Regions from separate parts of the Homo sapiens genome. Here region 1 is linked to region 2. Evidence: fine-mapped expression QTL. A gene starts in region 2. The other region holds a variant in brackets. All regions are shown on one strand. Distances are from middle to middle. Region 1 has its middle 72 kb from the start of LINC02559. Region 2 holds the start of GRK3 (G protein-coupled receptor kinase 3).

Evidence for each region.
Region 1: its variant is fine-mapped to the expression of GRK3 in breast (GTEx, PIP 0.98).

The regions. Positions count from the first base shown.
Region 1 is chr22:26,071,968-26,087,360 of GRCh38, forward strand. No RefSeq gene overlaps it. Among named protein-coding and RNA genes, the nearest start is that of LINC02559, 72 kb to the right of the region's middle. The variant T/A (reference allele first, on the strand shown) is at 6,697.
Region 2 is chr22:25,557,206-25,572,598 of GRCh38, forward strand. GRK3 (G protein-coupled receptor kinase 3) reads left to right here and starts at 7,470. Exons shown (of 21, transcript NM_005160.4): 1 at 7,470-7,948. The coding sequence starts at 7,836. It overlaps GRK3-AS1 (GRK3 antisense RNA 1), which reads right to left and starts at 8,211. Exons shown (of 4, transcript NR_183564.1): 1 at 7,875-8,211; 2 at 6,885-7,154; 3 at 6,098-6,276; 4 at 3,683-4,293. RefSeq lists silencers at 7,396-7,495, 7,806-8,055 and enhancers at 8,167-8,682, 9,965-10,144.

The sequences.
Region 1 (15,393 bases), 510 kb after region 2:
CTGCACATGGCTTCCAGACCCTTATCTGTGTCTTTTCCTTTACTGGGTTGATTGTGAATCCTTATAGTGTTGCCTTAGCCATGAGTACAACTGCATGCTAAGTCCTGTGAGTGCTTCTAGTAAATCAGTGGATGGTCTTGAGAACCACACCCCCCGCCAACCCAAGCAGGACCAAATCTTTAAAGCACAGTCTACGATTTCCAAGGCACTTTACAATATTATTGCATTGATCTTCTTAACCACCCCCCCTCCATTGAGAGACATCCTGTTCTCATTTTAGGGATTAGAACACTAAGGCTCAGAGAGGTGAAGTGGTTTAGTCAAGGATGCAAAGCTGGTAAATGGAAGGATGGGTTATGAACCTAGGCTGTCCCATTTCAATGTCACACTATGGTAGCTTCCATTATAGAGAGGAGAGACTGTCCCTGTCATGATAACCCTTTAGTGTCCAAGACAACTTCGCTCTGTGAGCTTAGAAATCTGGAGTGTTCTTTTAGGAACAGTCAGTGGAATGAGTCAGTGACTTCTTTTTTGTCAGTAGCAGAGCTGATATTGGCACCTATGCCCATTATTTGACTCTGGGGCCCCTAAGTTCAAAAACATTACACTATTTTGACCATGTGACCTCTGATATCTTACTCATTTTCTCCAAGCATTCATCACTTCATTTGTAAAAAGGAATTAAGAACTATCTAATTGATTATGAAAAGAACACAACCCTCCCCTATGAAGCACCTAGTAGTGAGCCACCAAATGTTGGTTCCCTTCTCTTTCACTCCACCCCTTATTCACTGTGTGGGCCTGTGTGAGTCCTACCATTACCTCCATCTGTTTCCCCATCTGTAAAATGAGGGGGATGATTTTGACGCTCCCAGAGTCCTTCTGGGGCTGGCATCGTATATCAAAGAACAAGCGTTTTTCTGGTGAAGTCTTTTAAAATCCTGCCAGCTCTGATCATGAGAGGCAGATCAAACCCACCTTCTGCCCACTTAAGAAAAAGGCTGTGTGTAAGTTGCACAAAGGTGGTGAGGCAAAAACATGCTCCAGCCTTTCCCAGACACTGATCCAGAGAAAGACATGTCAGAGTGTTGAAAAGTTCTTTGTTTAACTAAGGCACAGGCAGAGGGAAAAGGAACAGTAGAGAATTTATAGATGGGGCTGTATCTTCTATATCCAGGGTTATCAATCTAAATCATTATAGAGTTCAGTGGATAATTTTTATAGAGCTTTGCGGAGAACAGTACAAAGACCAGGTCAATAGGGAGTGGTGGGGACTGTGGAAAACTACAGGACCTATGCTAGCCTTGGAGAGAGCATCCCAGCTCCAACTGATTGCTGCCAAGTGGGAATGCAAGCATGGTGTTGCCAGACTATCTCTTTCTCTCTTCATGTTTAAGAAGTCAGAGTTTTGAAGTACGCTATCTCAATTTGTAAGTGTTGCCTTGAGTTTTCTTCTCAAAGATCTTTGTGGGTCCAATATAACTCTTTGCATTTCCAATCTTGCCTATAGGCTATTTGTTTGCAATCTCAGAGCTACCAGGGCTTATTTGCAGCATCTTTGTCATTGAATCCTGAAGAATTTGTGACCAGAGGTTACCTTCACATCCTCCAAGATGGCCAGCTTCAGACATGGGAGAATGATTTTCTGGAAGAGCCAGCATCATTTAACTTTAAGCTATTCTTAAAGTTTACTGCTGTAAAGCTTACCTCTTTAGCAACTCCTCCTTGCCCCAGGACAAAGTTCTGACTTATTATTTCCTGGCGTGGATTTTACCTTTGATTACCCCTATATCTTTGTTCAGGTGCATCTCTCATCAATATAAAATCTTATGGGAAACCTCCTAGTTGGCCTTCAAAATGCAGCTCTCATGTTTATTCCTCTGTGAAACTTTTACTAATCATCACCCTCCTCTCCTGAGGTTTAGCTTCCTGCCTCACCTCTGTGTATCAACCACACCACTCTCTATGTTCATATCATGCATTAGTCAGGGTCCCAATTGAGAACAAATGCCACACTCAAACTAGACACCATAAGGAGACTTTAATTAAGAGACTGTTTACAATGGAGTGTGCATTACAATGGGCAGGGTTAAAGGAAACTGACAAAGCATAGTACAGCACCTGGGACCAGCAATACTGGAGAGCTGTTACTACCTCTAGTCCTGAAGCTGCAAAGGGAGGAAGAGCAATTATAACATTCACAGAGGCTAGAAGTATAGACAAGATTCCCTGGCAGGAGCCTTGAAAAAGGGACACACCCACACTGTAGTGACCTGTCAAGGAGGGAGCCAAGAGAATAAAATCTCAACCTCACTTCTCTCTGACTCTCCAGTATCTTGCTGCTGCCTTTCATTGGCTGGAAACAACAGGCAGCAAAAAGACAAGGAAGTCTGCTGACATGGTCCATATGGATCAGGGTCTGGAGGCCAGAGCAGGGTGGAAAAGGGTAAAAAGGCAAACAAAAGAAGCCCAATATCCACCATTCTCTGCATAGGTCTCTGTTATGGCACTTGCTGTTTAGTGCCAGGTCCCCTAGAGGCTGGGAAATGCTGGTGAACAGAGAATTAGTTTGTTTATATCTGCACCCTCAAAATCTGGCATATAGTATGTGATCGATAAATGGTTATAAGAATTACCAGGTACATCATACAGCACCTGGTAAAATAGAAAGATTAGGGATTCTTTTTAGATTATCCACAGGCATGAAGCAATCATGAACTTCTTCCTTTCATGCAATATTTTATCAGCACCACTGTGTGAGGTATTATTCCTGCCATCCAGGAGCTCTTTATCTCAAACTAGAAACTCCTAGAGCAAGGAAAGCAGTTATGCATCCTCTATTTCACATTTCCCCAGTGTGGATACTGTAGGTCACTGGTTTGATGTGATGCTCAGAGATGTCACATCAGAGTCCATTGTCAAGTGTAAAGTCTGTAGATTAAGCAAATGTCTTCTCTACAGAACTTGTCAGAGCCTTTAATGTGCCAAAGCATCATACGAAGCACCTAAAGGGGGCCACAGTAAGCAGCCTTTCCTAAATTTATTTTGTCATAAAATTATTTCCCCCCGAGCATCTTGTAAATCAGTAAGTTGGAATATGCTTTGGAAAATACTGCCCTTCTTTAACCAGTTCATTTTACAGATGAGAAAACTAAAGCTCCAAAGTAGTTATCACCAATCAATCTGGCAGGGAGCACAATTTGCATACAGAACCAAATGTCGAAGTTGCTTTCATTGAGTAGCCACTCATTGCCTTTGATTCTTTCTCCAAACTATTATCAATTCTTTCTCAATGGATACCTCTCCCAAACCTTGACTAGGAATGAACAGGAAGTAGCCAATGGCTCTTTTCCTGCTAAACCCTCATGGGCCCCTGTGTGACAGGTGTGACCCATTGTGAGATGTTGTCACCATGATGACACAGAAGCTTGTTGGGTCATATATGGAGAGAAGATGACACTGAGTGTGGGTGGGATGATGGTAGTTGAGTACTGCTCTCCTCTGTGGTGACAATTCACTTCGTCTCCTGAAAAAGTCCCATGCCATCAGCACTGGGCAGGGAAATTCCACTCTCAACAGGGTAGCCAGAATGATTGTTTGAAACAAGAAGTCTGATGATAGCTCTCCAATGCTGAAAACTCTAGCAACTCCTTGTTGCCCCAGGACAAAGTTCTGGTTTATTATTTCCTAGTATAAATTTTACCTTTGATTTTTCTTTGAGATGGGGTCTCCCTCTGTTGCCCAGGCTGGAGCGCAGTGGCACAATCTCGGCTCCCTGCAGCCTTGACCTCCCCAGGCTCAAGTGATCCTCCCACCTCAGCTTCCTGAGTAACTGGAACTACAGGCATGCGCCACCATGCCCAGCTAATTTTTTGTATTCTTTGTAGAGACAGCATTGCACCATATTGCCCAGACTGGTCTCAAACTCCTGGGCTCAAACAGTCCATCCACTTTGGCTTCCCAAAGTGCTAGGATTGCAGGCATGAGCATAAATTTTACCTTTCTCTTTGGCCTCATCTGGTGCCACCAACTGCTTCTTTGACCCTCTCCACCCACCCTACACACTACCTTCTAGGCAATATACACAGCATCCAGCTCCTCAGACTCACCACCCTGTAGATCATGTGCAGACCTTTGCATGAACTGTTCTCTCCAGCTAGCGCTCCCTCTTGCCATTCTATTTGTCTGACCAGCCTCCATACTAAGAGGCAGTGTGGTGGCTGATTAGTCCATGGGCTCTGAAGCCTAAGAGTCTAAGTTCAAACTCCAACTTTGCCACTTCTTAGCTGTGCAGCCTTGGGCAAATGACTTAACCTGTGTGGGCCTCAGTTTCCTCATCTCTAAGATGAGGATAATGATAATACTACCTGCCTCAAAAAATGTTTTAAAAAGTTAAATGAGATAATTCTTTACCCATCATATAGTAAGTGCTCACAAAAATGATAATTTTAATTCTATTTCTTTATGGTTTAGTTTAGATACCCAGCCTCTGGGAAAGCTTCTCTGACTCCTCTTAAAATATACATACATGCACATGCAAGCACATACATGAACACATATGCACACACACCTGCACTTACACATACATGCATTCACACATGCACACACACACACACACACAGCCCTCCCCACATCTCCCCCAAGGCATCTGTGCTTCCTCCAACCCTGCTGCCAATATTATTCTAACTTACTTTTCTATATCTCTGCTTCCTTAGACATCAGCTCTAGGCACGTAGGAACTACATTGCATCTCCAGCACCCAGATCAGTACTGGACTCACAGTAGGGGCATTTGACCCATCCTGGACAATTCTTCTTACTTACTTTTGTGTTAGGACAGAAAAAGCCAGTGTCAGAGTAGACAACTGAGTCCCAGCCTCAGGAAAAGGAAAGGATGTGCGCAAAGTCACATAGCTGGTTCACGGCAAAGCCGCAATTGAGCCAAAACTCTCAAGTGTCGTTTGGTATATCCTCAGTTCCTGCTGAGGCTATACAAAGAGACCCCAGTTTCCAGTACTGCTGATGCCTCGAGATTTGCATGCTCTGTCTAATTTGTGAAGGAGGTAAAGAAGAGCCTACTTCGCTTTTTTTTTTTTCTCAATTCCCTAAGCAGGCATCCTATTTCTCGAAAGAAAATGGATTCTAGTTACTTTTCAGTATAGCACCAATGGTCTTCTTGTTGAATTACAGCCACTGATGACTTCCTTTAAAGAGCGAGTACCCAGTTCAGGAAAATGTATTACTCAGGTAAAATGACTCCCTGGGGTGATGAGGGTGTGATTCAGGAGAGCCCTCCCACTTAGATGTCCTCAAATGAAATGCGGAGTGCATGTCTCTGTTTCAGCTTTGAACTGTGTCTTTCAGGCATCCTGGGTTTGAACTGGGTCGCCAACATCCTCCCTGGGAGCAGCTGCAGGGGTTTCTGAAAGGATGACCTCTTTTTAGCACAGAGATTATTCAAGGTGCTTAGAAACAGTGGGATGAGTTCAGAAATCAGTTCTTGCTACTTCTTTACCTAGGGAAACCAAGGCTGGGAGATGGAAAGCAATTGGTATGGGGTTGCTAAGCAGAACAACAACAGAGCCAACTGTCATCTGCCCACCTTTCCACAGCACCTGGAGACTGTCATGGCTATTTCTGTATATCCACTGGTAGACAAAGCAGTTAGATTGCAATAGATTTGGGATAATCACACAAAAAATGACAGAGCGCTCACTTAGTGGTTAAGCTCCTTCATGACACCCTTCATGGCTCACAACACAAAAATTAGAATACAGAAGATAAATATGTTAGCTAAGGTTTCTTGACCACTGACTAGATACCAAGAGCTCTCCTAAATGTTTTATATTCATGTCCTCATTTACTACTCCCAATGGCCCATTGAGGTGGCCAGCACCCTTTTACAGATGGGGAAACTGGGGATGGCAGAGGTTACAAGATTTGCCCAAGGTCACATTGCTGAGATGTGACAGAGTCAAGACATAACCCTGCTTTTCTAATGCAGAGCTTGTGCTCTACACTATTTGGTTATCCTGTCCCTTGTTCCACAAATATTTAGCGAGGACCAGTCTGTACAAGAAGCTGTTTTGGGTGCTAAAAAGTCAAGGATGAATGAGATACAGACCCCACCTTCAAGAAGCACATTGTCATTTGGGAAAGAAATACATATAAACAGATAATTGCTAAGTTATCTGTGATCAGAGCTAAACAAGGGAACTATACACTTTTGGGTTTACTTTTTCAAAGTGCTTATATCATTCAATCTATGATTACATGTGGACACACACATACGTACACACACACACACACACACACACACACTCCACCAAAGAAACCAAGGTAGGTATTATCTGCATTTGACAGATACAGATGCTGAAGCCCAGAAAAGATAGAGAACTGGCTCAGGTAACAGACAAAATTGGTATCATGCCCAAGTCTCCAGCTTCTAGCTTGGGTTCTTTCTCCACCAGACCACCAGGAGCATCCAAACAGCCTCCTGGTGGCCAGAACCAGTCCAAATGCTGAACATTAATAAGAGATGCTACAGAGAGAGACTGCTCCATTTATATTGTTCATCTGTGAATCCTCCTTAGTTTCACTGAGAAGGACATCAAAGAAGAGAATTCTGGATTCAGTAGAGGTTGAGTTAAGTCATTGGAAGACCTTGTTGGGGTCCTTTGATCTTAGTCTAAGACAT[T/A]TAGAACAAGGGCTTGTTTGGGCTTATTTGAAGGGATTCACTCTTCTTGGTCTTCATGTTTTGGCCCTGAAATCCATCAGATGGAATTTTTGGATTTGTAATCTTAATGGTCTAACCCATGAGTTTGCCAACATGTTTTGTAATTTTCACCCTTTCCTTCATATCTTCCTCCCAGCCCCATCCTCCCTCAAGCATATGCCTGTTTCCTGAATAATGAAGGATACCTTATACTCTGCAGCTTTAATCTTACCGCTATTTCTTGAGAAAATGAGTTTTGGCCTTTATTAACTGCTCAGTAACTGGGCACATATTTCCCACTGTGATCAGAACAAAAAACTAGCCTTGAAGATAAACAAGAAGAGTGTAGACTGGGGGGATGTCTTGCGGAATTATAAAGTGAGTAAGGAGGCATTCAGACTCCCCCTGAAGATGCTATTTAATTTGTGGTAAGGCTGATAGTGGTTATGCTAGAATGAACATTAGGGGAATGTTGCTCTGTGACTTAAGTGCTTAACTCTTTAAGAATGCCCATCACTGTCCAAGGTACTGACCGAGATATTGCAGAGTTCAAATTGTTGATAATTTCCAAGGCCTTTCACATTCCAGGTAGGGCATAGAACAATGTCCTGGCCTGAGAGTGGGTGTAAGTGTTCATGGCTGAAAACGCAGAAGAAGATATGAATTGAGATTGCAAGCCTGTTATTGATTCCGGTGACATTGGGCAACTCTCTCAACCTCTCAAAACTCTGTTCTGTCTATGAAGGAAAATGTGCTACCCACTCCACAGGGATAGTCAAAAGATGCAATATCATTAAATATATTTCAAAGCCTGGTTTTGTGCCCTAAAAATGTGATGATGATGATGATGATGATGATGATTATGACGACGATGATGACAGCATAAAACTTTCAATAATATTGAGGGTTGTGTGCCTGCCAAAGTTCTAATGGCTTCACAAGTATGAATTCACTTAGTTGTCATAAAATTTCTTTATATTATTTGGAGATATTATTATGCTCATTTTATAGATAAGGTACCCACAACACAGAGAGATTAAATCATTTTCCCAGACTCACCCAGTTAATGGAGTACATCCCAAACACATTGTGTATAGTTATTATCGTGAAAAAAATAAAAGATCATAAACACATATTTTGAATTCCCGCCTGGAGCCTCAGCACTGCCCAGAATGGGATCCTAGACTTTCATTCTCTCCAAAGGGGAGCTCCATGACTATTTCCCAAGACTAATCTCCATGTCAGACATGAGATTGTTCTGAAACAGTTGCCCTATCCTGTCACCTTCACAACTTGAAACCCTCAATGACAATCATCCTCATAAGACCATGTTCAAACACCTTAGCCTGGCATCCAGGACTACTCAACATAGGACTTTTCTCTTTAGATGCTTCCTTCTCTCCTCAGTTGACATTCAAGGCACCCCAAATTTCTCCCCACTCTCTGAACATGCCATGACTTTCCTACTGCACGGTCTTGATGTTGTTTCCTCATCAGGAATGCCCTCCCTTGCCTAACAGTATAACTCCTATTCAGCCTCAGGAAGTCTTCTTTGATTTTTTGCTTCCTCCCTTGTGCTTCTAGATCCTAACACTTTAACTATTGTTAGGAATGTCTGTCCTTTTTCCCTCAGAATTTCCCACTCAGAGAAATTCTAAGGCCAGGCATACCTTATTTATCTCTCTATCCAGAAAACTTAACTCAGGGATTGTCATTTACATGTATGTATGTTTACAAACATATGTACATTTGTTTATATGAAAGGATGAATGTGGCTCTTCCCAGAAGGAAAAGAAGGGAGGTGTTAGAGACTTTTCTTTATGAAAAAGATTAAAAATAGCACCATAGTTTCAGATTTAAAAGGCTGTGCTTAGCAGTTGATATCTCAGCACAGAACAACAGAAAGCTCTAGAGCTTGAAAGCTGGTAGTTTCAAGTTGAACGTCTTTCTCTGCATATGCCAGCTGTGACCTGGGAAAGCCTCTTCCCATCTCTCAGCCTCAGTTTCCTGGTCCGTAAAACCAAGACGATCATATTCTACTTGGTGGGATCTCTGCAGAGAGCAAATGGGAAATTGGAATCAACTCATGTTTCTAACAATAGAAGAATAGATATAATGGAATATTATGCAGCTGTAAAAAATGAACAAACTACAGGCACACACATCAGAGGAGAATGGGTATAATGGAACATTATGCAGCTGTAAAAAGTGAATAAACTACAGCTACACACATTAATGGGGATGAATCTCAGAAACTTAATATTCATTCAAAGAGATAAATCCCATAAAAATCCAAAATATATAAGTCCATGTATATAAAGTTCAAGAACAATCAAAACTAATGCTATATTGAGAGACAGGAGAGCATAGCCATTATGGACTCTGGGGCCAAAAGTGGGTTCATGACTGAGTATTCCCTTTTTCTAGCTCAGTGACCCTAATGAGTTACCTAACCTCTCTGTACCTCAGTTTCTTCATTTAAAGAATGTCGAAGATAGCAGTGGTTCCTACCTCAAAGAGTTGTTGTGAGGATTAAATGAATTAATATATGTAAAATACTTAAAAGAGTACCTGGCACAGAACAAACACTATGTAAATGTTAGCCCTTATTATTATTTTTGACTAGTTGTTGTTATTACCTTTGTGATTACTATCATGATTTAGGAACATATACAAGATGGTTAAACTGTATGAAAAACAAGGGAATGATTAAAACAAAATTCAGGGTAGTGATATGTTTTAGAAGCTTCTAAATTATTAATAATGTTCTGTTTCATGAGCCAAATAGTGGGTGCACAGATATTTATGTTACTATTATTCCTTAACTGTATATATAGATTTTCACTACTTTTTTAGGTATGATATATTTCCCAGTAAAATTTCCTAAAGATTAAATGAAATTAATTATTGAAAAGGACCAACATCATTCTTTCCCCCCCTCCTGGCTAGAATCTCCCCTTTTCTGCAGGCCTTTGGATGATGTATTTTCCTTCACAAAAAGAGCCTCAACCTTCTGGAGGGGAACTGATCTGTTCAGCAGGCTCCCCCATTCATCATCCCCCAAGAAGCGTGTTTTACATTCATCTGCAGATGAAGATAAAAGGGTGGTGTGTTGCCCTCTTTAAGATTGCTAGCAGGATAAGCGTGAAGAGGAAGGCTTTCATATTTTACCCTAGGCTTTCCAGCAGTTGCCTTCCCCAGAATTGAAGAAGCTTGGCTTGCTTCTCAAGTGCTTGTTGAGAAGCAAAATGCCCAGGGAAGAATAGAAGATTCTGAACTCCAGAACTGCAGCATCTCTAGGCTAGATTTTATCACCGATGACATCGCATTTTACTGGAGCAGCTTGATGTTCTAGAGATTTGCCCAGCATGCTTGGTGGCTGTTATTTCACTATGGCTTTTGAGCTCAAAGGCTTTAGAAAAATAATAATGGTAAGAATTTATTAAGCATTTTCTATGTACCAGACTCTGGGCCAAGCATTTTTTATGCATGGTTTTCTGTAATTCTCAAACAGCCTTATAAAGCACTCACAGTTATCTCCATTTTATTGCTATACAAACAAAAGGACAGACAGGTGAAGATATTTACCCAAGGTCACACAATGAGTGGGAGACAGAGCCAGGATTTGAATAAAAATTCTTCTTTACACTCATAATTTCATTTGAATCATCCAGCATTCTGGCAGAGGGGAACTATTCCCATCCATATTTAACAAATGAGTAAACTGAGTCCCCATGAGATGAAGTCACTGGCTAAGGAGACACAGCTAGGAGGTGCTAGGACTCCATGTGAGTCCCATCTGAAAGGCTGGAACACTCCTCACCTTGCCTTCCTTTTCCATTAGCAAGAAAGAATTTCCTATGAACACACACTCAAATCACACTACACTCAAAACAGTGCATGAGGAAAGATCATTACCTTGCATGTAGAGTTTGGGCAGAATTGCCTTGAAAGTCCCAGACCAGAAGAAGAATGGCATCAGCACCAGAGTGGGCAGAGAAGACATTAGAGGATGTGAAGTGGGGTCTGCAAAGGCCATGAGCAGGCACAGGACACTGGTCCAGAAGTGAGAAAATACACAAGAATTTCTGGGGAAAAAAATCATTTGGCAGGGACATGGCTAAGAGGTAGAGGTAATAGAGTAGAAGAAGTAAGCACAGGTCATGAGGGGCTATTTGCAAAATGTCCTTGAGTAGATATGATTCCTTAGTATCCAAATGCTGGGTACTGTAAGGCTGTAGTGGGTCCCATTTGCCCTCCACTCCCATCTTCCCATCCATCCATCCATCCATCTGTTTATTCATCTATCCACTCAGAATGTGAGCTCCTTATGAACAGAAACCTTACTCATTGTGGTTGCCACTGTATCCCTAGTAACTGGAAGAGAGCCCAGCACAAGATAGGCATTGAAGAACTAATTGTCAGATGAATAAATTAACTCTTCTATTGAGCAAATATGTGCTAAGTACCCACCAGCCATCTCAAGAGGAGAGCATGGTGCATCTTTTTGGGGCTTGTATTCCAGTGGGAAGAGACAGATGACAAAGATAATAGATTGATAAATATACATCATGTCATATAATTGACACAAAAGTGGGACTTTGTGTAGTTTTCTCTAAAAGAAAATCCTGAGTGGAAGGTTCAAGGGGAGGTCATTTATTTAGGAGGTTATCCAAGAAAGCATCATTAGGGAGTGGGAAATTGAGACAAGAAAGAGAAGAAAGCCAGTCAAGGACATGATATTGAGTGGGTTTTCCTGTGGGCAGCTGAAATTCAATTCTGCTGGAGACCCTTGCAGAGACTTCAAAAAACATACTTTATATTTTCCCACCAACTGGGCATGGGAGCTGGAATAATTTCCACGAGCTCTTGCCTCTCCTGGCAGGATATATATGTATGTAGGGGCATGGGTATATTTTACATGATGTGTTCAGAAAAAAGTCTCTCTGATAAGGTAAGACTTAAGAAGAGATAACAGAAAGTGAGAGTAAGCTGTGCAAATATTCAGGGGAAGCACATTCTAGGAGGTGGGAAGTGCAAGCACAAAGGCCCCGGGGCAGGACTGTGGCTGGTATGTTCAAAGAATTGTAAAGAGACCAGGTGCTGGTTGAAATGAGCAAGGAAGATAGAGATAGTGGAGGATAGATCATGCAGGGTCTTTGCAGCTCATGGTAAGAATTACAGCTCTGTCTCCAAGTCAGATGGGAAATTATTGGAGAAATTCGAGTGGAGAAGTGACATAAAATGTTTCATTTTTGAATGATCCTGTTGGCTGCTATGTGGAGAACGAATGCTAGGGACAGAGATGGAGGCAGGAAGAACCAAGGGGAAGCCACTACAATAATCCAGATTTGACATGATGGCAGTTTAGACCAGAATAATAACAATGAAAGTTTTAGCAAGTCATCAGAGTCTGGCTGATTTGAGAAGTCTGGATTTCCTGATGGAGTATATGTACAGAGTGAGAAAAAGGAAGCAGCGAAATGAACTCCAAGTAGCTGGAAGGATAGGGTTGTCATTCATGAGACATGGGAGGTGCAGGTGTGCAGGGGGCTGGACACCTTAGGCTGGATGCCTAGTAGACATCTCCAGGTGGAAGATGATGAGCAGGACTATATAGGTTGGAGCTCGAGGGAGAGACTGAGGCTGGAGATATACATATTTTATATGGGAGTTTTTGGGGTAGAGCTTGTAGTTAGTGCTAGGAGACTGGATGAGACCCAGTCTGCATGAATGAGTGTACACAGGGAAGAGTCCAGAGTCCTGAGATTCTGTGTAGAGTGTGTAGAATTCAGCCAATGAGGGGGAGCCAGGGAAGGAGATGGGAAGGGAACAGCCACATAGGGAGGAGGGAAGCCAGTAGCATGCTTATGCTAAGTGGCTTCACTTGAAGCCAAGTGAAGAAAACATTTCTAGATGAAGCAAACAATCAGTTGTAACAAATACTGTTGATTTAGGTAAGATGAGCCTAAGAATGGCCCACTGGATGTGGAAAAATGAAGATTATCAGTGATCCCGACAGCACAGGTCTCAGGGCACCCTGACTGGAGTGAATGCAAGGGAGAATGGAAAAGGAAGAATTGGAGAACTCTGGATGACTCTTGAGTAACTTTTTTTCTGAAGGCAACAGATGGTGGCTGGAGTGGGATGTGGGTCAAAGTTCTTTGTTGTTTTTACTTGTTTTGCTTTAAGAAGGGAACGTTATGGTAAGTTTATTTGCTGATGGGAATAATCCAGTAAAAAGAGAAACACTTATGATTTGGGAGAGAAAGGGATTGATCACTGGAGTGATGTGGCTTGATGGGGTGTGGGAAGAGGAACCCAGAACTCCCATGGATGAGCTGTCAGCATCGACAGGCATTCATGGGACAGGGAGAGGACAGGTACATGAGCTCATCTGGGGAAGGTTGGCAGGGTGAGTGTGGCAGAAGTGTGGCATGGGGCAAATAACCCCTTCCTGTTTTCTTAGGGGAAAGGAAGCAGGGACATTAACCAAGACTGAGGAGGAAGAGTTGGAGAGTTGAAGGGAGGGTCGTGAAAGTTGTCTTGCAGCTGGGATCATGGACTTGCAATAGGTTCTGAGCATACATTTAAAGTGATACCAGCTGACCTGGGTGTTTTTTGTCTTCCAGCCATTTGTATCTGTAGAGACACAGGTGTGGAAAAGATCAGCACTTGGATTCAATCTGGGTTGAAGTTTTGCCAGGTGAGTGTAAAGGAGGAAGAAGAACAAGAATATTAAGATTGAAAGCAAAGAAGTGAATACGATAATGGGCATCTACCTGCCTTTCCCCACCTTTCTTTCTTTGTCTCTACAGCTCACTTTCTACACACACACACACACACACACACACACACCCTAGAGGGGACATGGAGAGAGGTATTTGTAACTTTTAGAAATATGACAGAGCTATCAGCTATGTGACAGCTCCATAATTGTGAAGTAGGCTGCATACATTTTGATCCGAACGTGACTGTTGCAATTGTTCTGCATCGGTGTATCATATTTTTTTCCCATCAAGCCAAAGAACAAAAACAAAGAAAAACTGTGTCTGAGAAGGAGGAAGTCAGGAGCGACAACTACAAAACTAGAAGTGTGTGGCTGAGATGCTTCTCTTCATTCCCCCAGCTCCATGTGCCTTTAAAACAAAGTACCAGGTTCTCAAGGGATCATGAATGATTCTTTTTTCCTCTCATCCAAATGCCCGTGAGTTCCTCCCCTTACCCTTCAGAGGCATAAATCTCAGTGGGGCCAATTTGGGACAAGCCAATTCTCATCAGTGTTTAATTCAGGTACAAGAAAATTGCTGGACTGCAGGCAGAGGGCAGGAAGCTAAATTCAACTGGGAGGTGGACAATGGCCATTGATACTAGTGGGAATGTTAAATCTTATTGGGAAAGTCTCTTAATTATGTGATTCAGCTCTTAGATAAAGGATTATTTTTAAGCACAAATAGCTTTTTCTGTAATAGCTGTTCCTTTTCTCAGGCAGAGAGCCAGAGGACAAGAGATGTCCCAGTGACCCATCTGACTCGAAACTCTGTGTGTTCAGCAAGGCATAGCACAACTGCCCAAAGCAAGGGACCAGGGGTGGGGGTGAAGGGTTGGGTGTGGGGAGAGAGTTGCTGCTCTGGAGCCCAACCTCTATCTGTTGTAAATGGCTGAACAGACACTTGCAGAAGGAGAGATTTTGAGGGTCACTTGGAAAACCTGTATGGATTGTTTAATAATGTCTGCCATAAGAACAGAGGTGGAGAGCAGTGGTACACATACCAAGTATCAGCCATTTGTAATCCATAGAAATCTACTGTAGGAATTGATTAGCAATGTCTGCCATGAGCATAGAAGTGGAGAGTGGCAGTACATATGCTGTATATCTGCCATTTGTGAACCAAGGATGTTTTTGTGGAAAGCATATCAGTCCAGCTAGATGGCAGTGTGGCTCTAAGTCAATAGGGTAGAGTTTCAGTAGACCCCTGCCAAAAGATAAATCCAAATCCTACTTTGCCCGTGTATTATACAGTGACTTTAACCAAATGACTACATCTCTTGGAGCTTCTTTTTTTCTTTCTTTTTTTTTTTTTTTTTTTACATCTGTACAATAGAGGGAACAATCACTATGTCATTGGTTGTTGTGAGAATAAAACAACTATTAAAGCCCTTGGTGTCTTGTGAATTTTGATATGGGCTTAAGATATTGTGATTGCGGTTATAATTATTTCTATTATTAATTGCTGATAAAATGTCAACTATGTGCCAAGTATTTTGTTTGGCGCTTTTATGTATATTAACTTATTTGTTTCTCATAATAGCTCTGCAAGTTAGGTACTAATCACAGTCTCCATTTTATAGAAGGGGAAAGTGAGTTTCACAGAGGGTAGGTGACACATGCATTGACACACAGACAGCAAAAACGGATCCTGGATATAAATCAGGATGGAGAGATTCCAAAGCCATTGTTTAAATCTCTACCTGTTGCTCTCTTAGCAGTACCAGCCTAAGAGCCCAGTTTTCTGGGTCTGATCCCCCGTTCTTTTGAAGACCTACTGTGTGTCTTGAGGCAAGTCGCACTTCCACATGCAACTCAGTCTTTACATCTTGGAAAGAGACAGTTGGAATAGACCCATGGTTTCTACACTTTGTTTGTTAGAGTTCCAAGAGTCTGAAGAGTTTCCCTGG
Region 2 (15,393 bases):
TGGGGTTTTATTGTGCACTTTAACATGCCTTATTTGATGTTGTTTCACTCACAGCCCCATGACTTAGAGTACAAGGACATTCAGAGGACAGGGGTTGAGGGAGAAGTCCTGGGTTGAGACTGCCTGAATTCATACCCTATGAATTTAGTTGTTGCACTTACGTTGCAAGTGACTTGAGATTTTTCTTTTGGCTAAAATGAGCCCAACCAGCTGGGCACAGTGGCTCACGCCTGCAATCTCAGCACTTTGGGAGGCTGAGGCGGGTGGATTGCTTGAGCTCGCGAGTTCAAGATCAGCCTGGGCAACATGGTAGCACCCCCCAAAAGACAAAAAAAAAAAGCCAGGCATGGTGACATATCCCTGTGGTCTCAGCTACTTGGGAGGCTGAAGTGGGAAGACTGCTTAAACCCAGGAGGTTGAGGCAACGGTGAGCTGAGATCACAGCACTGCAATCCAGCCTTGGTGACAGAGTGAGACCCTGTCTCAAACAAACAAAACAAAAACCCACAAAACGAAAAATGAGGCCAACCCTCTCCATTATAGGTGTCTGAGGAAGATTATTAAGATAGTCCCACAAAGTGTTTAACATGATAGTTGGCACAAAGTTAGTATTTAATAAGTGTTTTCTATTATTATTTTCATTTGCTACAGCCAAAGCACTTATTTGGAAGAGCATTTCAGTGTGGCTATAAGCCTCCTGAAATTGATTATGTGCCTTGGCAGATGAGTGGTTTCTTTTTAGTGCCTGCCACATTGATGATACTCAATAAATATTTGTTGCATGAATGAAAGTGTGAACTACTGTGTCACGGGTTAGGCAGACATAGAAGTAGAACATAACAGTGTGGGTGGAGGAGTTAGCAGATCATTTGGCAGGCAATGGGGAGCTATTGAAGGTTTTTGAGCAGGGGCAGGAGAGTGTCAGATGGATTGAAGGAGGGAGGGTTTGGAAACAGGACAAGGAGTTGGCAACCTGTGGGCACCTTCCAGGTGAGAAGTCAGAGAGATCTGGTCCAGGGAGAAGGGAAGTGGGAGGGCCTTCGTTTTGTACTTGGCTGCTTCAGAGGCCTGCAAATCACCCTGGACCATGAGTGATGTGCTGGTCTGCTTACTGCAGCTACCCTCATCTGGGTCTCTTGGACTGCTACCCTAGCTCTCTCTAGCGCCTCCCTTAATTCAACTATCCCCCCCTGCCTCCAACTGGATCTGCATCCCCAGCCAGAAGAATCCTATAAAATGGTCCATCTGATTTTGTCACTCTCCTCTTGGAAACCTTCCACTGGCTTTCTGGTGCCCCGAGGATAGCTTCAATTTCCCACTGTGGCTCCAGGTGCTGCAGAATCAAGGCCGGCTGATCTCTCTGACCTGCCTCTCCCTCCTCTCCTCCTTTGTCTGGTGGCTGTCCATCTGGGCTCCGCTGATCTGACCTTTCTCTAATCTGGAACTCCCTCCCCTAAGTGAGGCCAGTCTGAACAACTTCAGGGTGGGAGATTGCCTGGGCATCTTGTTCCAGTGCAGATTTGGCTTAAGTCTGTGGTGGGGCCTAAGATGTCAATGTTTCTGCTGTGTTGGCACCACCTGGGGGCTTGCAAGGAGTGCAGATTCTCAGGCCCTGATTGGACCTCTGAATCCGAATCTGCATGTTGGCAATTTCAGCACATAAGTGTCTGGGGGTGCTGGTGGCAAGCACGTCTTAGGAGCATGTGACAGCTTCTCTGGTGGCTCCCTGGGGAGGGTAGGGGTGGTCCTCTGAGATCAGGGTTATGCCAGGCCTGGCCCAGGCACCCTGATTTCATAATTGAGTGTGACCTGTTTGAATCTCTATTCATGAACTGCTCTATACCAAGCAGTTTGGGAGTTATTTCTGTTGATCAAGAGAGAAGAAACAGACCTGGCCAGGACAGGAAGAGACAAGCTCTGAGAGGTGGGGGGTGGATTTGCTCAGTACCTGCTGCCACTGGCCCAGGTGGCATGCCCCAAAATGACCTGCCCTTGTAAGGGGGTGCCGTGGGAGATGCAGAAAAGTTCTGGCCTTTTGTGACTCACGTATCCAGAAGTCATCTTCTTACTCCTTGAGAGGGAGACAAGATGAGCTTTCCAGTCCCATGGAGAGGCCGAGGCCTGCCTTGGCTGTCTGTGGATCTTCAGAGCCCACGTTCCCATCATCATGGCAGGCCCCAAATTCCCTGCTTTTGCTTAGTTCTTGTTCTCTTGCTCTTACAGCTGTTCCTTTATCTTGGTCCTGGTATTGATCCCAGCCCTAGTTCCCTGCTTCCCCTGCAACTTTCCATCAAAGTACCCACAAATACAAGCTGGGAAGTTGTAAGGATCACTGGAAAAGCAGGCATTGCTGTACAGAACTTAAAATGGCACAGAAGACAGAAGAACATATTTCCTGTTCTGGAATGATTTCCAGACCACCCCACCTCAGGCTTGGCACCCGCTGCATGGACTGCCTAGCCTCGGCCCCTCTTGTTGCCCTCTCTCTTACTCCCTCTTTCAAGTTCCCCTCTAAGTCCCCTTTCTTAGGCAAAGGGAGTCAGCGCTCTCCATTCCTGCGCCTAAAGTTCCCAGACTCACCCCAGACTCACCGTTGCACAGCCCAAGCACATCAGGGCTCTTGGCTGCAGGAGAGGCCTTCCAGGCCATAAGCAGCACGAAGAACCAGTGGGGACCTGGCAGTTAGCACTCCTCCTTTCATAGGAGGCATCCCTTGAGTGGCACTTGTGGTTTTAAGTAGTAATTTTCCCCCTCCCTTTAGGTTATTTTCCAATAGAAGGCTGAGGCAATCTATGATCTTTATGTCATTCATTCATTTACTCACTTATCCATCCAATACATATACTGAGCAAAGTCAGTGTGCTGAGTGCAGATGCTGGGGGAACAAATACAGACAGGCTTGTTTCCAGAAGCAAGCTAATGGATTGCTCACCTCACCTGCGGGCTATGGTGACAGTGGAAATGATTTATGCCCTGGGTATTGCCCTATGCACCGAAACCTAAACTCATAAGATGTTATTGAGGGGAGCGAGTACTCTTTACCTTGCAAAAGGATTCACTGCAGGATTAAATAAAGCTGGAGAATTTTAGAATTTGAAAAGACGTCAGGGGACCTGCTCCTTCAATCCCTTCATTAGTTACTGGTGAAAAATCATATTTAAAAAGCTTAAGAGACTTGCTTAGAGTTATTCAGCAATGCCAGAGCCAGCGGGTCAGAGCCAGCACTGTTCTGTTCATTCTCAGTGCTGGTCTCTTTCCATCGGGCCCTGTATGATGTAGAGATGCTCCAGCGATGGCTGCTGCTGCTGCTAACCAGGTCAATATTTATCGAGTGCTTTCTGTGTGCCAGACACAGTTCTAAGTGCTTTTTACATGTTACAGCATTGCTCTCACGGCAATCCCATTAACAACACTGAGGCAGAGCTGAGACACAGAGAGATTAGACAACTTGTCTAAGGTCACACAGCTCAGAAGGACTGGTCTTGGGCTTCTTATCCATTTGTCTTTTGAGCCCATGCTCTGAACCACAACACTGTGGCTTTTCTTTAGAGTGAGTCCCTGACCAGCAGTCCCCATAGAGAAATGTGTTTCCACTCACATATTGAAAGGAGAGTACTTCTCTACTGAACATCGTTTCAGTGCTAATAGCTAATAGTTTAATAAAAGCAAAGCTTGGCATCATACCTTTTGGCAGATCTTTATAAAGTTGTCATACATAGAGCTGCCATTAAAGCTTGTAAAGCTTTGTGGATAAAAGCAGCATGAAAAGCAGTTCATATGATGTGTGTGACAACAAACAGAATTGTGATCCAAATTACAGGTGAAACGGGACAGTGGCCCCTGGGAGGCTAGAAATACCTGCAGAGGCTTACGGAGTGAGATGTTTGTAAATAAAGCCATTCAAACATCAATTGTGTGTGGTTTTCTTGAGAAGCAACTGTATTTAAGGGACTGCTTATACAAAATCAAGTTCTTCTTAGCAAGGATTGCTTTAAATATTCTGACTTGAATGAAGGCCAGTCATGTTCTGCCATTTTCAAAAATCTTCTAACTGGAGTCTTAGAGTTGATTTTCTTTTCATTTGTGATTAATTTTCCAGAATAACATTCCCAGCTCCCACCCCACCCAGCGTTTATAGTCCAGAGATTCTGAGAGTAGGAAGTCTTAGTAAAGCCCAGAATCTAAAACAAATAAGACCAGTCAGTTCTCTAGTTAGCTTTTTTCCTTTCAAGTTGTTAGCAATATAAACTCTGGAAAGCCTAAACTTTAATGCACCCATCTCAGCAACATCTCCTGTAACGATGGAAAGGCATAGAAAAGAAGAAAAGGGAACATTATTAATCTTGTGGGAACGCTGGAGTTTTGTCTATTATCACAAGCAGCGTGAGCCCCAAGTCATTTAAATCCTCTGGGGGTGGGAGACATAATTATTTGCAAGGGAGCATTATTAGCTAAGTACAAATGGGTTGCTATTTGTTTTTTCTGTTCTTTGTGATGATTACAGGCTGGGGATGGTGTTTAGTAACAGGATCCAGCAGGTCAGTTATGACAACTTCATCATCACTGTCATTAACCCCTTTTGTTTGCAGTGAACACAAAAAGCTGTTCAGTATCAAGAGAGTCAAGAAAAAGGGAAAGAAGAGGGGGTGGAGAAAGTGAGACAACCAAAGAGACAGCCAGGGAACAGAAATTCATACACTATGAACACCAGAAAAAAATACCCCTGGGTAATTGAGTCAGCTGACTCAAATGGTGTAGGGGCCTCAGTTAGAGGACCAAATTTTGGACTCCTTGGTCTTTCTGCCAAAAGAGTAATTGCTCATGTTTATAGATGCAAATGTTTTTGCCATTTTGGTTCCTAGAAATGCCCTAGGGAGATGTTATTTTTGGTAAGGGGTCTTCCTGCTTCAAGTGTAATGACTGTGAACAACTAGTTTCAGTATCTTCTCTAGCATGCCAGGGTAAAATGAAGCAAAATAAATAGAGGAAGTGCCATGACCTTTATTGAGGATCTACTGGGTGCCAGGCAAAATGCTTTTTTTTTTTTTTTTTTTTTTTTTGAGACAGGGTCTTGCTCTCTTGCCCAGGCTGGAGTGCAGCAGTGCAATCTTGGCTGACGGCAAGCTCTGCCTCCCGGGTTCCTGCCATTCTCCTGCCTCAGCCTCCCAGGTAGCTGGGACTACAGGCGCCCGCCACCACGCCCAGCTTATTTTGTTTTTGTATTTTTAGTAGAGATACAGTTTCATCGTGTTAGCCAGGATGGTCTCCATCTCCTGACCTTGTGATCCACCCACCTCAGCCTCCCAAAGTACTGGGATTACAGGTGTGAGCCACTGTGCCTGCCCAGTGCTGCGATCTCGACTCACTGCAGCTTTCGCTTCCTGGGTTCAAGCGATTCTTCTGCCTCAGCCTCCTGAGTAGCTGGGATTACAGGCGTGCACCACCATACCTGGCTAATTTTTGTATTTTTAATAGAGACATTATTTTTAATGTATTTTTCCTGTTGGCCAGGCTGGTCTTGAACTCCTGGCCTCAAGCGATACACCTGCCTCAGCCTCCCAAAGTGCTGGGATTACAGGTGTGAGCCCCACGCCCGACAAGGTGCATTTTTATGTGCTTTTTCTCCTCTGTCTTCTCAACAACCCTGGGGTAAAAGGCCTCATTTCCACTTTTCCTATGAGAACAATAAAGTAGAAAGAGGTAAAAGACTGCCTCTAAGATCACCCAGCACAGAGCAGGGATTTGATTTCAGGTGTGTCTTGTTCCAAACTTAATATACTGTGCTGCTGGGGGAAAACAAAGAGCAAAAGGTTCTTAACTGAAGTCAAAGACGACCAAGAAAATGTAGGCAGATGTCAGGTCTGATCATGTGGATGCTCAAATGATAAACAGACACATTGAGAGAAATTGTATTAATTAAATCATAAAAATATGTTCCGCTTTTTGGGGAATTTACTCCTCCTCCTGGGGTGACCCTTGACAAGACATTCTGTCTTCCTGTTTTTAAGCAAAAAAAAAAAAAAAAAGTGGGTAGAAGATGAAAGTTTGATATTTCGCTCATGCATAGCTTTGTCTCCTTAATATATTTTGTGCTTGCCTGTCATTTCAGCTTTCTGCTGGCAGACGAAGCTCCTTCAACTGCCATTCCTACTTCTGACACTCCTCTTGTCCTTTTCAGGACAACTTTATGCCTATTGTGCCTTGGGTCTTGAGAAGCATGTGGTAAAACTGGCCAGTGGTGATGGCAGGCATAGCAGGGAATCAGATTGAGGGGGGCTGTGGCGTGGGAGAGAAAACAAAAGAGGGAAACAGGCTATTTGATGACAGAATCAGGCTGCTTCTGCAATGACATTACATGAAATATCTGAAATTTGACCTTAACTGTATCTGGTGGGTCCCGTTAACCCTGTAAGTTATGGACAGAACGTTCACTCAAATTCTAGCAACGTCTAGGCTCATGGAAATACGTGACCAATTCAGGTGAATGAAAGGGATTTTAAAACATTAATTTCCAGCTTAGGTCTTCCTAAGACTGCCTGCGTGTCCCTTACCACCACTCCAGCCTGAGTGTCACATGGATCCTGAATGCGGACTTGTGTGCACACTGTAGAAAAATAAGCAACTGAAAACCCCAGGCATCGGGGTGGAGTGATGATGAAAGACACCGAGACCGAAGATCAGGAAGCTGGAAATTCCCCCCAGCTTCGGTGTTTGGGCTGTATCTCGCTTTTCCACTTCCCTAAATCACCCTCGTGGTGCGAGTGTGCTCGCAGCAGATGCTCCCTAATTGTCTCTTGTATTGACCGTAAAACCCTAACGACAGGAATACTCTCTCTCCTTCTATTTCTCAACACCATTTCAACACCCAAACTAAAACCTCTCACCTGAGTGTAAGGGAGTGGTGACCTTCTTAAGCGGAGAGCTCTTCCATCAGAGGGCTCCCTAAGGGCATCTCTGTTCCTAGCCGGGGAGCCGTCACCCCACTTTGTTCTGCTTAGCCTAAGACACGCAACTTTTTCCAGCTTTTACTCTTCGCTGAATTCTCACGGTGGGGTTGGGGGGATGTTCAGGCTCAGGAGCGAGGTTGGGGGCCCGGCCCGCTGGGCGCTGTTCACCGGTAGCCCGGACCAGAGCAGGAGTTTCATCATTACCTGCTGGGATAGGTGGGACACATGTATTTCCGGGGCCACCCCAGACCTCCCGGAGGATGCTGATTGACACTGTCCAGTTTGAGAACTACTGTGTCCAGGGAGCAGAGGCCTCCCCATAACCCCTTGGGTTGTGGACGTCTGGCCCAGGGCTTCTCTGGGTGAGCGGGGCGGGCATCAGAGCGCGTGGAACCTGGGGCGGGAGGTCGGGGCAGTGAAGGAGGAGGAGAAGGAGGAGGCGGAGACCGAGGGGGAGGGAGGGGAGGAGGAAGAGGAGGAGGAGTCCCTCGTGGCCACCCCGAGGGGAGGGCGACCGTAGAGACTTGGTCGGGAGGCGCCGGCCCAGCGAGGCCGCTGGGACTGTGCACTGAGGGGCGCTGACCGTTGGACGCGCGCTCCCCGCAGACCCTCGCTGAAGGAGCAGGGGGCGGCGCGCGTGCGCGGGGCGCCGGGCGGCGCGCGAGGGGGCGGAGCGGGGAGGCGTGCTGCGACCCCGGCCGGCTACAGCCTGCGGCGCGCGCAGAGCGCTAGTGGGGCGCGCGGCGCGCGCGCGGGGCGGGGGCGCGCGGAGGGGGGGGCTGCCCCGGGGCGGCCCCCCCAGGTCGGGGCGCGGCGGGCGGCGGCGGCGGGCGCGCGTCCCGTCCAGGTCCGGAGTAACCGCCGCCGCCGCCGCCAAAGCTCGCCAACATGGCGGACCTGGAGGCTGTGCTGGCCGATGTCAGTTACCTGATGGCCATGGAGAAGAGCAAGGCGACCCCGGCCGCCCGCGCCAGCAAGAGGATCGTCCTGCCGGAGCCCAGGTACCAGCTGCCCCGGCCGGCGCCGGCCCCAAGCCGCCGCCCCCTGCGGCCGCCAGCTACCCCCTGCTTCCTGGAGGGTCGGGCGCTGAGCCTCCGCTGCCCCGGGGCGGGTGACACAGCGGAGCGGGCGATGCGGGGCCGGCCTCGTCGTTCCAGTCTCTGAAATGGGGCATCGGAGGGCCGGTGGGGGGCACCCCGGGAGAGAGCGCTCCAAAGTGCCCGGCGCGGCGCCCTGCGCGCAGCGAGCGCCCCAGCCAGGGTCTGGTTATGACTTGGCTGGACCAGCTCCATCCCTGTCGCCCCCTCCCCCCAGCCCTGTCCTGTCCTGCCCTGTCCCATCCCCGTGGTTCTTCCTGTTGCATTGGTGTAGTCCCCGTTGGCTCCTTGCCTGTCACTGCTTTGCGCTCCATCCTGGTCGCTCCTTCTTCCCGGGCTCATTGGTCCCCCTTTCCAACTCCATCCTCTCACCTCCCTCTGGGCCGCTTACCTGGGGACTGCAGGCTTGTTGCTTATTGTCCGAGGTAGTTAAACTGCTGTTTTCAGTACTTGCTCTTCTTGAAGTCTATTAAGTCTAGTCACCTTCTTCGGCTTCTCTTCTATTTTGTCCCCGGGCAGGATTTTGACCCACTCAGTATTCTTTTTGGTGCCAAGTGTGTCACCTGAGCTGCTTTCCTCAACTTGTAGATCTACTGGTGGCACTTTATTAAAAAATTGAAACAGGAGTCACTTAAAAAGACACTTGAATGGGTGATTCCAGACAGGAATTTGTTGTTAAATTATCAAAGGAGGGCCCGATTGAATTGGCGAGGGGCTCGGTGAGGTGCATACCAAGTTGCAATTTTCTCTCAAATGATTTATTATTAAGGTACTAGTAAAATTTTTTCTAGTTCATATCATTAGCACTTCCCCAGAAAAAATAGTTTGTCTGGTTAATAGTGAGTTTTAAATAACGTATCAAGGCTTCAGTGATGGATTTTTTTTTCTCTAGCTCCTTTCCTAATTAACACCATCATGAGTTGTACAGCTAATGTGATTCCTTGATGCTAAATAGCTCTTGGAATTGATGCTCAAAAGAGGCATCTTGTTTATGGTGAATTTGAAACCATGCAATTCTGTAAAATATTGGAATCTAAACCAAAGTTATTGTCCATTTGAAATCATCAGTCCTTCAAGCGTTAGGCGCCCAAGATTGCTTAAATGTTACCTAATGCTAAGTGATCATCATCTGATTTTTTTTACAAGTCATCCATGAGCCCTATGATACAGAAAATACCAGTCCCCTTGTTATTTGTTGTGAAAAGCTAAATTGTGCAAATGAAGACATGCTTGCTAGGTATTTTGAGCTTGCTTTTCCTCCTTAGCCCATGCCTCTTGTTGGTTTTGCAGGATGTGCTACTCTTTGATAGACAATGCCAAGTAGTGAAAATGAGGGAAAAGTGCAAACCTTTCTGCAATGTCGTGAGTTTAACACCCCTATTCCAGAGTGTAGCATATCTGAAGCTAATTGAAAAAAATCAATGCTGCTTAAAATTTCCGGCAAATGGGAAACTTACTTAGAGAACAAGAACGCCTACATCAAACCTAAATTTCACCAAAAAAACTGTACATTTCTAATGTGGTAGAAAAAGGCTTAATTCCTCTTTTGTCTTGCCTTTCCTAGTGTCCCTCCACCACCCAAAGGCAGGGAGTCCTAAATATGTAGTATTTCTATATACAAAATTGATAAATCTCAACTCATGGGCAGTTTTTTTTTTGGGGGGGGCTAGTATATAATATTAATAAAGTTAGGAACTTCTGTTCAGTTTTTTTTTTCTTGGTGTTTGGAACTTAATGTGACTTCTGCTTTTTTAGTGTCCCTCTTAAGAACGTACTTATGCACTTAGGGTGTTCACTTCCTTGTATGAATGCCTTTGTTTTTCAGTGGTATTCTTTGGTAATGCTTTCTTTTAAGGCAGAGTAAGTGACAGCCAGCATTATTTCTCATGACATTTGAAAATTGAGAAATACCAACCAGAGAGTAATTTTAGGAAACAGCCCTTCAGTAATTGTTACTCTGTTGCTCTTTTTAAAATAGACTCTCGAATTGGGCCATTGGAACCTCCTCCTGAGATTCTAATTTGTTTTCTACTTATCTTAGTGGCTTTGGCTTTAGTTTTGTAATGTAGCTATTTACATAGTAACAGTCACTCCTTGTGCTGTGTTAGGATTCTGTTACATTGAGATTATCAGGTATAACATCTTGCAAAATTCTCTCTACCACTGGATGGCAGTTAGTGGCCTACCTATTTGATTTGGAGGTTGGGGGTTGGGGAATTTCTAGATCCTGTAAAAAAGTTAATTGCATGTTAAAATGCCCCAGCCTAATGACTTAAATAGCTGGTATGACTTCACACTATTGGTAAAAGGGATACGGGTCAAATGTTTTCTGATAAGTTTCTATTTCAGCTTCATTATAGAGGAAGCCATGTGATCACCAGTTTTTGGTATTCTTGAAAGAGATGTTCAGATTTGTATTTTTGGTATCTGAATGAGAAGCATACATTTTAATTTGCCTTTGGTCTATCACTAGTGATTTTTTTATTTCCAGCAAATTATTTGCAGTCACTATTCTTTGTGCTTCCTTATTTTAGTTACTTTGCCTTTCCCACAGTTTTAAACAGAAGAGCATCAGAACGAAATATCTAGCTAATTTAAATGAAACACTGGGTTTGCAGCTTCCTGCCTATTACAGGAGAGTCTCAGAAAATGGAACATTCTGCCCAGGGGAGATTTTGCTTCCCTGAGATGGCAAGAGGCAAATATTTTGTTATGTTGACACTTTATTCAGTTAACCAACCAATGAGTGCAAATCCTGGAAAAGCTGACTGTTTGTCCAAATGGTATAGCTGCTTTAGTTTACTGAAATGTTGTTGAGCTAATGTAGCTGATAATGGGGCCTACTGGGAGTAGTAAACTGTGACCCACAGCCTCCCTTGCAGGCCCAGTTAAAACAGGAGCATTTAGATGTGCAGGCCAGTTGTTTTACATCATGTTGGAAAAGAAATACTTTTATTTAAGTAAGGTCTAATTCACAAGCAAAGGCCCACAAAGGGTCATCATCTTAAGCCCTGGAGTGATTCAGACGACTTTTACTGTAGGCTGTATTACTCTGTTACTCTTTTTTTTTTAAAAAAAACAGAATGAAATTCAGATGACTTGAAATCACATATAGTTGAAGGCGGTTGAGTAATGTGAACTTCATCTTTCCCCTGGAGTCTTATTTCTATTTACTGGACATTTCAAATGTTGGATCACCTATTGCAAAGCTTGTCCTTTCAAAGTATTCATACAATATGATAGGAAGGTCTGAAACAACATTTTAAAGATTCTTTATAATTTTCTAGGAGCACTGACAGTCCTTAAAGGACATTTATGATACCGTTTATGACATTAATTCAGTACATAGTTGTAGAGCCATTTCTATGAGCCAGGCACGGGGTACTATGACAAACCCAGCCACAGCCCCTTCCTTCATGGAGCTTATAGACTAGTGTGAAATACAAAGATTTGAGCCAAGAAGGATGTTTGCTTTGAAGTGTATTTGCTTGAAGATTTTATTTAACCACAAACAAATAGCGTTTGGATGACTTTTATTACTCTATATGCATAGAATATAGAATAATAAAGAATGAATATAGAATATAGCATAATGCATAGAACACATGATGTTTGGTGTTTTACAATAATTTGTTAGTGATTACCTTTGAAGAACTATCTAAACATAGTCTCCATGGTGATATGGTAGTTTGCATCTTTCTGTTTGTGTAGCCACCACATGTAATTGATCTTTAAAAATGTCCCAGTTTTCTTCTTTAGTGGACATGGAGTTTATTCGGTAATTGTTTAACTCCAATCAGTAAGTGATTGGTGGATAACTTGAAATACTCCTCTCCGTTTAGGCTGTAGAGTTTTCTGTGTCTTCACTGTCCTGTGCTCATAGCCTAATTTTGAACTGAAAAGTCCACGTTGAAAGCACAAATAGCCTTTAGAAAGAAAGTATTCCTTATTATTGATAGGAGTGTTTCTATGTGTAAGAAACAGTAGTGTTCTTGCTTCTTTTTCATTAAGGTACAAATTCAAAATGTAATTTGTTCTGACCTTTCAGTTATTATCTCATTCTTGGTCCAAGTTAACTTGTGCCAGTGACTTGAAGATGCAAGGAGTGCGTGTAGATGTCAATTCTTAGAAATGGATGTTCCGGTGAAATCAGTTTTGGACCTAGAATCTGCCAAAGCTGAGCATCATGAAATGCTTCGAATCGAGAGCCTCATAGATCTCTCTGAGGTACAGGCAGTCCCAGCTTTTACACGCAATGGATTCTTAGAGACAGCCTCTTACAGTGTTTTCCCCAGTACACCGGACTTTGCCAAACATCTGTTTGGACAAGGGTGGAAACTATCCGACGAAGGTGTCAAGGCTTGAGGAAGGGAAGCACAGGTCTTTTTCAGTCAGTGGCTGGCCAGCAAAGCAGTGAAATGCAAAGTAGTATTAAATAGCTAGCAGGACGCCTGGCCTCCCTAGGGTCCCTGGAGCCCTGGCAAGGGAAAGAGAAGTTTAACGTCCATGATGTAATAATGTAATAACTGCCTTTAATTGAGAGCTCATCCTCTGTCAGGCAGTTGGCATAATTAGTTCATTTGTCCCCACAGTAGTTCTACCAGGTGAGTTGCATTAGCTCCGTTTAACAGAAGGAGCAGACACTCAGGGAAGGTAAGGAGCTCAGCCCAGGTGACACCTGACAGTGGGAGAGGCAGGAGGGACGCCCAGGTTTCGCCCAGCTCGGGGTCTTTCCCCGCCCAGGCAGGGTCTTGCTGGGCTGCCCCACCAAAAACGAATACCAAACTCCCTCGCGTCTTATTTTGCAAGGAATGGATGAAACTGCGATACTTTTTTATTTGGGGGAAAAAATCCTTTTTCGTACTCTCCCGATCAGCTACGAGTCCTCAGAGACTGATAGAGAATTCCTCTGGGACCTGCGAAAACGGTAATTATGAGTAAGTGAATAAGCAGCTTGTTCCTTATTTCCCATGAGCTTGAAGGTGAAATGCCTATTCTGTTTAACACAAGTCATGCAATCTTGCTGGTGTTAATGAGAAATTGTGTAATACACCATCTCACCCCCCAAGGCCTCAAAACAGGATTTCTACTGTCTTTTTATTTAGAAAAGGGGCCACCTAAGCTGCCCTGTCTCCTTTTTATTTAAAAAAGGGGCAGCCTGAGCTGTCCCCTCCCTTGAAATTTTCATTTCTGGGAAAAGAGTAAAAGGGAAAAACAATATTTTTGGCTTTATTTGCAATAAAAATCACTTTCTCATTCACATAATCTTCCTTTGTTAGTACAGTCACATATCTGCGGACCACTGTAGGTGAAAATGTAGGCTGTCTGCATGGCTATCATTGTCTCTTCTTATTCTCTGGACATTGGCAATGGGGAAATGGAAATGATTAATTTGGCAACTTTTACTCTATTATTGCAAAATCATTTGTATGGTAAGTAATTTGCATGCAAATGGGACTGGATATCCCGGCCCCCCTCTGCTTCTCCTGTGTCTTACTTTTTTAATCTTCCCTTCCTATTTTTATCATTGATTAGAAGTTACAACCCCTGGGCCCTTTTTGATTGCTCTATGAGCCTAAAATGCAGAATAAGTAATAATGTGGCTCTTCATATCCTGTAAATGTTTCTTCTAATTTTGGAAGCCTTCTTTTGGGTCCTCTGCTTCCACTGGAGCATACACATATTTGAATACTTTCTATGTAGGACACTATATAGAGAGCCCATGGCGAATGCAGTGAAAATATTTTTGCGACATATTTTGTAAAATATTTTGTGATAGGTAGTTGGTAAAGGTCAGCTTGATCCAGCCTTGGACCTATACTGTTGTTTGCCACCATTTCCTTCTCCTGCAGTTTCAGGAGCAGAAAAAGATGCTAATGTGAAAATAGCCAGCCCAGACCTCCATCCTTAGTGCACCAGAAAGCCACTGTCATTGCTGGGCCCCTCGTTTTCCTGTGCCATCCCTACTACCTACCAAACTGTCATAGAAGAGAAGGTTCTAAATCAGAAGCCAGACATTAAGGATCTGATTCCACTGGCAGCTTGCTATGGGACCTCTGGAAGTCACTTAAATTTGCTGTATTTAGTTTCTCCATCAGTAAAATACATTATCTATTTCTTTCTGATTGTATAATGTCCCAATAAAAATCTGCCTTGTGAGCATTTTCTGTCTATGCAATACATTTGTAAATAATAGGAAACATTAAAAATTACCCATATTGAATTTCAGACACGGATAACTCAAACAAAAAGATGAGAAGGAATATTAAAAGAAATGATTAAAAACACTTATACTATAGGGTTATTGTTGTTGAGATTATGTGTAGTATAAGATACAAGTACACCTTTAAAAAAGTACAACATAATAGCGAATATTAAGGCAGTCTTGCAAGTGCTGTGGTGCCATGTGCTCTGAGGGAGGAGGGAGTGGGTTTGGGAGGCAGGACTTCTGAAAAGCTGGATGATTGGCTGGAACAGAGAAGAGCAATTGTTGAGCCTTAGACTCATAAGTAGGTTGATTGCCCAGATTTCTCAGTTTTCCTCCTCTAGCTGCTTATTGTGGTACTGTGTGTCTAGAACCTTCTACACATGATACCTTACTCACACTTTTTTTTTTAAAATTATACTTTAAGTTCTAGGGTACATGTGCACAACATGCAGGTTTGTTGTATGTATGTATACATGTGCCATGTTGGTGTGCTGCACCCATTAACTTGTCATTTACATTAGATATTTCTCCCAATGCTATCCCTACCCCTTCCCCCCGCCCCATGATAGACCCTGGTGTATGATGTTCCCCACCCTGTGTCCAAGTGTTCTCATTGTTCAATTCCCACCTATGAGTGAGAACATGTGGTGTTTGGTTTTCTGTTCCTGTGTTAGTTTGCTCAGAATGATGGTTTCCAGCTTCATCTATGTCCCTACAAAGGACATAAACTCATCCTTTTTTATGGCTGCATAGTATTCCATGGTGTATATGTGCCAGATTTTCTTAATCCATTCTATCATTGGTGGACATTTGGGTTGGTTCCAAGTCTTTGCTATTGTAAATAGTGCCGCAATAAACATACGTGTGCATGTGTCTTTATAGCAGCATGATTTATAATGCTTTGGATATATATCCAGTAATGGGATGGCTGGGTCAAATGGTATTTCTAGTTCTAGATCTTTGAGGAATCGCCACAGTCTTCCACAATGGTTGAACTAGTTTACAGTCCCACCAACAGTGTAAAAGTGTTCTTATTTCTCCACATCCTCTCCAACACCTGTTGTTTCCTTTTTAATGATCGCCCTTCTAACTGGCGTGAGATGGTATCTCATCGCACTCACACTTTCTTGCTTGCTTGCTT